2 separate regions of the Homo sapiens genome follow, and region 2 is reported to be linked to region 1. Evidence: microRNA targets listed by miRTarBase, many of them from high-throughput screens and not tested one by one. Region 1 holds a microRNA gene; the other region holds the end of a gene's coding sequence.

What was found. Region 1 holds the annotated microRNA hsa-miR-487a-3p (AAUCAUACAGGGACAUCCAGUU, at 1,730-1,751, opposite strand). A microRNA usually pairs through its seed, bases 2 to 8, with sites in the 3' UTR of a target mRNA and lowers its output. Matches are read on the target gene's strand: a 7mer-m8 pairs with bases 2 to 8, a 7mer-A1 pairs with bases 2 to 7 and ends in A, and an 8mer does both.
Region 2: miRTarBase lists PTPRS as a target of hsa-miR-487a-3p. The part of its 3' UTR that is shown has no 7-base or 8-base seed match.

What each region holds. Positions count from the first base shown.
Region 1 is chr14:101,049,718-101,054,244 of GRCh38, reverse strand. MIR487A (microRNA 487a) reads right to left here and starts at 1,799; the gene lies at 1,720-1,799. MIR381HG (MIR381 host gene) reads right to left here. Exons shown (of 3, transcript NR_104192.1): 2 at 2,976-3,178; 3 at 2,450-2,643.
Region 2 is chr19:5,203,232-5,207,545 of GRCh38, reverse strand. PTPRS (protein tyrosine phosphatase receptor type S) reads left to right here. Exons shown (of 38, transcript NM_002850.4): 38 at 704-2,038. The coding sequence ends at 772. Among named protein-coding and RNA genes, the nearest start is that of PTPRS-AS1, 28 kb to the right of the region's middle.

The DNA.
Region 1 (4,527 bases):
CTGCCAACCACCATCCTGTGGACAGAGTGGACACCGAGCATTAGTGAGGCAGCTTACGGGTGTCCTAGGAACACACTGGAGTTTGGGCAACCCTTCACTCACCTCCCTTGGAGTGGTGCTGGCACAGTCCCCCTTCCCTGGAGTTGAAATTGTGGTCCTGAATCCACACGCACAAGGTTTAGAAATAAGAAGAGGGAAGCCACTTGTCACACGCCAGGAGCACTCCGCAGTGTGTAGACCCCAGGGTTTCTGAACAGGGCCTTGGACTTCTCAACAGAGCACACTGAGTTATCCATCAAGCACATCAAGGTGCCAGCCAGGCTCCCGCAGGGCCCACTGAACTAGGGAGGTCCAGAGGGGGCCCCCTTTTGCCACTGCAGGTGCCCCTAGAGAAACTGCCCAGCTCAGGCACGCCAGGCTCCTGGTAGGTTCCCCATCACTGCCCTGGGTAGATTCTCTATCAATGCCCTTGTGGTCAGAGTGATCTTTCCAACACAGACCACGCATCCCCCCTGCTCACAACCCTTCCAAATCCCCCATCTCACTCAGAATAAAACCTGGAGTCCTGCCTCTCCCAGCTCAGACCCAGCGACTCCCAGCAGCTCGGTTCAATCCCACTGGCCTTCTTGCTTTTTCTTAAAGATGCCAGGGGGCTTTCCATGGGCCTTGCCCTCCTCCTGAAATGCTCCTACCCCAGACCTTCCTCTGGTCCACCCCACTCCATTCCCACCCACATCCTCAGAGAGAGCTTTCCAGACCCCTGTATTTAACACAAAGGTCCACCTGCTTTTACCTCTTTCTGTCACTGTAACCCGCTTTCCCTTTCCCCATAAAACCTAGCAGTGGACAAAATTACGCTTCCTAATTCATGTGTTCTCATCCGTCTCTTCCACCAGAATGTAAAGTCCACATGAGCAAGAACTTGATTTCATTCACTGCTCTCTGCTAAGGTCCAGAATCACCTAGAACACAGTGTGCACTCCATCACTATTTATGGAATGACCAAGTCATTCCTTGTTATTTGATCAACTCATGAACCATGTAGTTATGCTATAAACAAAAGAATCTGATTTTTTTAAAAAGAGAGAACTTTATCGAAACAAAATCATGGTGGCCAAAGTCACCAACCCTCTCAATAGCCATTATGGCCATGGGCAGGACACAGCTCTGGCAGGAGAGTGAGCTCAGGGAGACGCCTCAGAAACAAAGCTCAGACTGCTCAACTAACTCTCCACAAACTCCAACAGATGTGGATGCCAAGTCTCCCCAGAGGGCGGTGCTGCTTCCAGAAACCCTTCCCTGGCAAGATTTGGCACTCAAAAATTCTGCCCTGGAACAAAAGCAATAATGATGACCAATTACCTATCAGTCAGTCCGGCTGATGACAGTAACACTACCGAGCCAGCATGTCTCCAGAGATTCATCTTACCAAGGGTGAGGGTCACTTGGAGCAGGTGACAGACGTCTTGTGTGAATGGGCCTCTCACTGGTCAACTTCCCCCAATAATGTAGTGCAGACACCAAAGCCCCTTCCAGAAAATCACAGCCTTAGAAGTAACCATCTTCCTCAGAGATTCGATTCTGGTCATGGCTGTGGCACATGAAGAAGCTAGTGCACTGCGATGGCCCGTTCACATACATACCTTGGGTGGGAGGTGAAGCCAAGACCCCTTGCCTGAAGGCGGGACGCTGTCCGGGAAGCCTTCCAAAGCAGTATTTGATACTGAAAAACTGGATGTCCCTGTATGATTCGTCATAAATTAAGCGAACACAGCAGGGATAACCACTCTTCAAGTACCGAAGGCTGACGGTGACGGCCCACGTCTTCACCAGAGTCTGCCTTCCTTCCAGCTAGTCCGCCTGAGGATGAATTGGGGACAGAGGGTTAGGAGAGTTGAGGGGTGCACAATGTCAATCAAGCCCTTGCTTTCCAGCCAACCATGCATTCTTGCCCCTGGAGAGGGACGAAGGGCAACAGCTCCTTCCAGAAAGCTTCCCCAGCAAGATCCATACTCAAAAAAGGCACTCCCTCATGAGACTGGGCATAAAGAAAGCAAACCCGGCAAGGAGAAGGTCCTTTCAAGTGCCAGAAAATAGCATGGCCTAGGAAACCACCACCTTGTCTTCTGAGCTGATGTGGCCTCCAGAAGTCACTGGATAGGTAGGGACTGTGGATCAACTGACATACACCATTTATAAAATGTACGTTCTCTGATCAACCATCCATTCCCCTATCATGGACAGCACCCTGCCTCCAGGTCAGGGTCCTGCCAGGGGACATCTCCGGGGAGTTTGTCCTGAAAAACAGTGGTCCAATATGATAAGCCACAAACCCAGGCGAGGCCCCACGGTCAGCCTCAACCCTGCTCTGCCCCCGAGGCCTCCAGAGCCTGGAGGCCACAGCATGTGAGTCTTACTCCAATGAAGACACAGGCTCTGCCATGGGTCATCCTTACGAGTATTTCACGAGGTGCTGACACCAATGCCTCCTTTAATAATTCCTTGGAATTATATCCAGGAAAGAGGTGATGCTGAGTTGCATTTGCAGCAGAGAAAGCATTGTAGAGGGAACCTGCCATTGACGAGACCTCCCCAGGTGTGTCAGAGGAGTCCCCCTGCCTCCTCTTGTAGGTAGCCTGGATGCTGAGGGTCAAGGACAGAGAAAGCCTGTGACCTGGCTTGATAATCTGTCCTGTGGCCTCTGGCTCTGCAGCACCTCCTGGATCGTGGCCTCGTGCTGATGGCCAGAACCTTTCCCCGGAGTTGCCCTCCCTTCTGGGGGACCCTCATGGGCAGGCTGCATGGATAATGAGAATTAATGACCCATTTAATAGGTATCATCAATTCAGCCCCCTCTCTGCCTGGGACACGGAGTGGGGCTGAGCACCGAAATGGTCTTGCCCAGAAGTCCCCCAAGGACGGGTTGCTTGGGCCATTGAACATTGGGCATCGTCAGCAGACCCTCCCCCAGGTACCTGGTGATGGTGCTGACATAGACCTCCTCTCTGGTGGCGGGACACCTCCACACATTCTCCCACTGTGCAGGAATGAGGCCAACTGTGTGGTCTTTGTCATGAAAAATGCAAGAGCACTCCGGTGGTTCCTCACCAAGCCCCACGCCGCGACACGAGCACATCGGGTCCCCCGGCCAGAGCCTGTATCACTTCTAGGGCTTCTCCTGAGGGTGGAATGAATTCTCTGGGTTAGCTGTGCAGAGAACACATTCGTCAACAAAGTTCATATCCCTGCGTCACCTCTGTGCCCATACCTCAGGCGAAGCTGACAGTTTTCTTACTGTGAAGCCGGCACCTGCAGGCACCCATAAAGAACTGACTCCACACAGGGACCCCAGCGCACTGGCCACCTCAGATAGGACAAAGCCACGGAGGCAGAGAGCAGTGGGGCTTTGCAGCCACTCCAGGATGCTGCCCCACACAGGGACCACATCCTGAAGGGGGCGGGGCTTGGTGCCACTGCCCTCCACTGTGTTAGTCCATTTTCTGGCTGCTGATAAAGACATACCCAAGACTGGGCAATTTGCAAAAGAAAGAGGTTCAATTGGACTTACAGTTCCACGTGGCTGGGTAAGCCTCACAGTCATGGTGGAAAGCAAGGAGAAGCAAGTCAGGTCTTACGTGGATGGCAGCAGGCAAACAGAGACCTTGTGCAGGGAAACTCTGCCTTATAAAACCATCAGCTCTCATGAGACCCATTCACTATCACAAGAACAGCAAGGGAAAGACCCACTCCCCTGATTCAATTACCTCCCACCAGGACCCTCCCACAACACAAAGGAATTCAAAATGAGATTTGAGTGGAGACACAGCCAAACTATATCATCCACCAAACGGGGGATCAAGGACAGCCTCCCTTCTCCATAACCAGGGGACACGCTGGAGTCCGTGTTCTCCTCTCAAACCAGGTGCTGTGTGCAGGAAGCCCTCCAAGGCAGCATCACAGAGCCGAAGATTCATTAGCTGCATGGTCTCCATCGGGAAGGAGTGAAGGGAACCTGGCACCGTGCCAGTGTCTATGAGCACCAAGCAATGGACCAGGAGACCCCACCAGGTCGGCTGGCAGAGGGAAGCTGACCTGAGGAGGAAGTGGCACTGGGCCAGTGACCTGGGTGAGGAGTGGGAACACAGCCCAAGTCGGCCTGCCCTTCACACACCCACAGAGGTGCTGGACTTCATCCAGGGAGCCACCCTGAGAGGAAAACAGGCTGTCCTCAAAGGAGTCCGCATGGAGGAGTTAACCTCTCCTCAAGTGTCCCAGTGGAGTGGTAAACCTTGTCCTTGCCCCCAGGGACCCACCCTGAAAAGCACTGGGTCCAGGAAGGGACCTAGCCCTGTGGCTAAGCCACAGACCCAGCCACTGGGGGAAGGCACAAGTTGGCATTCAAAGAGGAGGGAACCTCACATAACTCGCAAAAACACATCGCATTCACAGCAAACACAGCAAAGCAACCCAGGGCTCTTCCCTCCACCAGCCTCACTTCCAGGAAGCTTCCCTCACGCAGCACGGAGC
Region 2 (4,314 bases), not on the chromosome of region 1:
TTCTGAACAGCAGCCATGTCTTAAAAGATGAGTAGAGGGGACCCGGCGTGGCAGCTCACACCTGTAATCCCAGCACTTTGGGAGGCTGAGGTGGGAGGATCGCTTGAGCCCATCCTGGGCAACACAGAAAGACCCCATCTCTACAAAAAAAATAGAAATGAGGCTGGGTGTGGTGGCTTATGCCTGTAATCCCAGCACTTTGGGAGGCCAAGGCAGGCAGATCACCCGAGGTCAGGAGTTTGAGACCAGCCTGGCCAACATGGCGAAACCCTGTCTCTACTAAAAATACAAAAATCAGCTGGGCATGGTGGTACACGCCTGTCATCCCAGCTACTTGGGAGGCTCAGGCAGGAGAATCACTTGAACCCAGGAGACAGAGGTTGCAGGGAGCCAAGATGGCGCCACTGCACTCCAGCCTGGGCAACACAGCGAGACTCCGTCTCAAAATAAATAAAAAAGAAAAGATGAATAGGGCCTCCAGGCAGACGGGAGGAGAGGGCGTTCCGGGTGAAGAGCCTGGCTGTGTTAGGCAGAGAGGTGTGGCATAGCTCACTTCATTGTGGGAGGGCCGTGGGGGCCAAAGAGACCTTCTGCAAGAGACACGCACAAGGCTGAGGAGCTTGGCCTGCTCCTGAGGGCGATAGGGAGCCCTGGGAGGCGTTAGAGCAGCGGAGGTACTAACAGGTCACCTCTGCTCCCCCAGGATGAGTACCAGTTCTGTTACCAGGCGGCACTGGAGTACCTCGGAAGCTTTGACCACTATGCAACCTAAAGCCATGGTTCCCCCCAGGCCCGACACCACTGGCCCCGGATGCCTCTGCCCCTCCCGGGCGGACCTCCTGAGGCCTGGACCCCCAGTGGGCAGGGCAGGAGGTGGCAGCGGCAGCAGCTGTGTTTCTGCACCATTTCCGAGGACGACGCAGCCCCTCGAGCCCCCCCACCGGCCCCGGCCGCCCCAGCGACCTCCCTGGCACCGGCCGCCGCCTTCAAATACTTGGCACATTCCTCCTTTCCTTCCAATTCCAAAACCAGATTCCGGGGTGGGGGGTGGGGGGATGGTGAGCAAATAGGAGTGCTCCCCAGAACCAGAGGAGGGTGGGGCACAGACCATAGACGGACCCCTCGTCCTCCCCCAGCGGTGGTAGGGGGACCCGGGGGGCTCCTCCCCGCTCTGCAGCCTGGGGACACTGGGCTGGGACCAGAATCCAGCTTTCTTTTAAAACTCTCAGTGTAACTGTATCCCGTGACATTTCATTTTTTTTAAATAGTGTATTTTTTTTTCCATTTTTTTTTTTAAGAGAAACAAACAAAAGACTCGCCAGTCAATGACTTTCAAAGAGAACTAACTTTGGCTTATTCATATTCTGTTCAAAGACAGTCTATTTTTTCACTGTAGAAAGCGTCCTTGTGTGATAGTTACGTTCGCAAACGCGCACGCCAGGCCCATGGCTGTACCTTGGCTTTTTTTTTTTTTTTTTTTTTTTTAATTTTTCCTACCATCAGAAAGTGTGCTTTGCTCACAGAAGAATGGGATGTCCTTTTTTCTTTCTTGGCTTTTTTTTTCCCCCTTTTTGTTTCATTTTTATAAATTAAATTTTCAGACATATCAAATACAGTTCTGAGGGTAAGGTCATGGGGGAGCTCGGACCCAGTGGCGTTGGGTGCGGTTGAGGGGGACGCTGCTGTAAGAGGAGAGAGATGACAGTGGTCCTCCTCTGAGAGCCTGAGCTGTCTCCCCGTCTCCCGCCCCCAAGGAGACAGAGAGGATCCTACTTCTTCGGGGACAGTGGCTGTATGGCTGTGCTGCCCCACATCAGGGACCCTTTCCCCCTGGGACTGTGGGGCAGTTTGGGAGCAAAACCAGAAGGACAGGCCCCCCTCTACCCGCCTACCCTGAGCAAGCGAGTTGTTCCTCTTTGTACAAGGGCAGGTCTGCGGTTACTTTCAACACTGTTTATTCCAGCGGAAGCAGCCGGGTGGTTTTCCCACCCCCGTGTATGTAGATATATCGACTTTGTATTAAAGGAAGATCGTCTGACCCCGGCCCATTGTGGAGTCTTTGTTGCGCCCCTGCCTGTCCAGTTTCATCCCTGGGGTGGAGGTCGGTGGGGTCCTGGAGAGCTGATCTCGTTTCCTTGTGTGAACAGTCAGAGGAGGAGTTGGCCCAGAGAGGTGGTGGTGCTTGTCCAAGACCACACACCGCTGAGGCGGGTGGATCACAAGGTCAGGAGTTTGAGACCAGCCTGGCCAACATGGTGAAACCCAGCCTGGCCAACATGGTGAAACTCAACTCTACTAAAAATACAAAAATTAGCCAGGCGCAGTGGCGGGCGCCTGTAATCCCAGTTACTCAGGAGGCTGAGGCAGGAGAATCGCTTGAACCCAGGAGTTAGAGGTTGCAGTGAGCTGAGATCATGCCATTGCACTCCAACCTGGGTGACAGAGTAAGACTGTCTCAAAAAAAAAAAAAAAAAAAAAACTCAAAACACCGATGAAGTGGCCAGGCCAAGATTTGAACCCAAGCCCTGGTCCTGTAGGGGCTGCCTCGTGTTCTCATTCTAATAAGTGACCATGACTGAGAATTCACCATGGGCCAGACACTCTGAGATAGAAGTTACCAGCCCCTTGGCCAGGCGCGGTGGCTCACGCCTGTAATCCCAACACGTTGGGAGGCCGAGGCAGATGGATCACCTGAGATCGGGAGTTCGAGACCAGCCTAGCCGACATGGCAAAACCCTGTCTCTGCTAAAAACACAAAAATTAGCCAAGCATGGTGGCACCTGCCTGTAATCTCAGCTACTCAGGAGGCTGGAGCAGGAGAATCACTTGAACCCAGGAGGCGGAGGTTGCAGTGAGCTGAGATCATGCCATTGCACTCCAGCCTGGGCGACAGAATGAGACTCCCATCTCCAAAAAAAAAAAAAAAAAAAAAAAAATCCCCATTTACATATTAGGAAACTGAGGCTCAGGGAGGGGCACACAATGAGTTTGAGGTGGAGCTGGGATTCGTACCCCAGCCCATCTCACCCGCAGCCCTGAGCATCACACGGTGCTGCCTTCTCGAAGTGCCCTGGGGAAGAACTGAGTCCGTGGAGGGAAGCAACAGGTTGGGGACACTCTGCTCCACCCCTAGGCCACTCAATGAGCAGATCCATGCACTGAGCCAGAATCACATCCCTGGGGATGGAGAGTGAGCCATTTTGTATCTATACCCTTGCCTGAGTCACTTCTTGCTTGGGCATAGAAGCCACCCACAGGAGCCAGAGATAGGATGAAAGAGCCCCCTATGACCTCAGGGAAGTTCCAGGAATGAGAAGGGGTGATCTTAGTGACACCAGGGACCCAGCTCAGGGAAGAATAGGACTATGTCTCTTAGAAACCAACAGATCAAGGCCGGGCGCAGTGGCTCACGCCTATAATCCCAGCACTTTGGGAGGCTGAGGCGGGCAGATCACGAGGTCAGGAGATGGAGACCATCCTGGCCAACATGGTGAAACACCGTCTCTACTAAAAGTACAAAAAACTAGCCGGGCATGGTGGCAGGAGCCTGTATTCTCAGCTACTTGGGAGGCTGAGGCAGGAGAATCCCTTGAACCTGGGAGGCAGAGGTTGCAGTGAGCCAAGACCATACCACTGTACTCCAGCCTGGGTGACAGAGCAAGACTCCGTCTCAAAAAAAAAAAAAAAAAAAAAAAAAAAGAAGCAACAGATCAGGTAGTCAAAAAAATACAGATGTGACTAACATCATTAATAAGCTTGGCCAAAAATATTTAACAAACCCTATTATCCCCTCCTACTCTAACATTCTCAAACGCACATGGAACATTTGTGAAAATTAACAGAGATCGGCTGGGTGCAGTGGCTCACGCCTGTAATCTTAGCACTTTGGGAGGCCGAGGCAGGAGGATTACCTGAAGTCAGGAGTTCAAGACCAGCTTGGCCAACATGGTGAAACCCCCCGTCTCTACTAAAAATAAAAAACATTAGCTGGGTATGGTGGCACACGCTTGTAATCCCAGCTACTCAGTGGGCTGAGGCAGGAGAATCGCTTGAACCCAGGAGGAAGGAGGTTGCGGTGAGCTGAGATCGCGCCTCTACACCCCAGCCCAGGTGACAGAGCAAGACTTCATCTCAAAAAAACAAACAAAAAATATTAACAGAGATCTTCACAAATTCCAAGAAACAAATATTAGATGAGGTATCCTGATCTTGGCTCTGAAGAGTAATTAGCCTCCCCTGGAAGGGGGAGGGAAATTTTAAAATACTTTTTTTGGCGGGGAGGTGGGTGGGGGACAGAGTCTCGCTCTGTTGCCC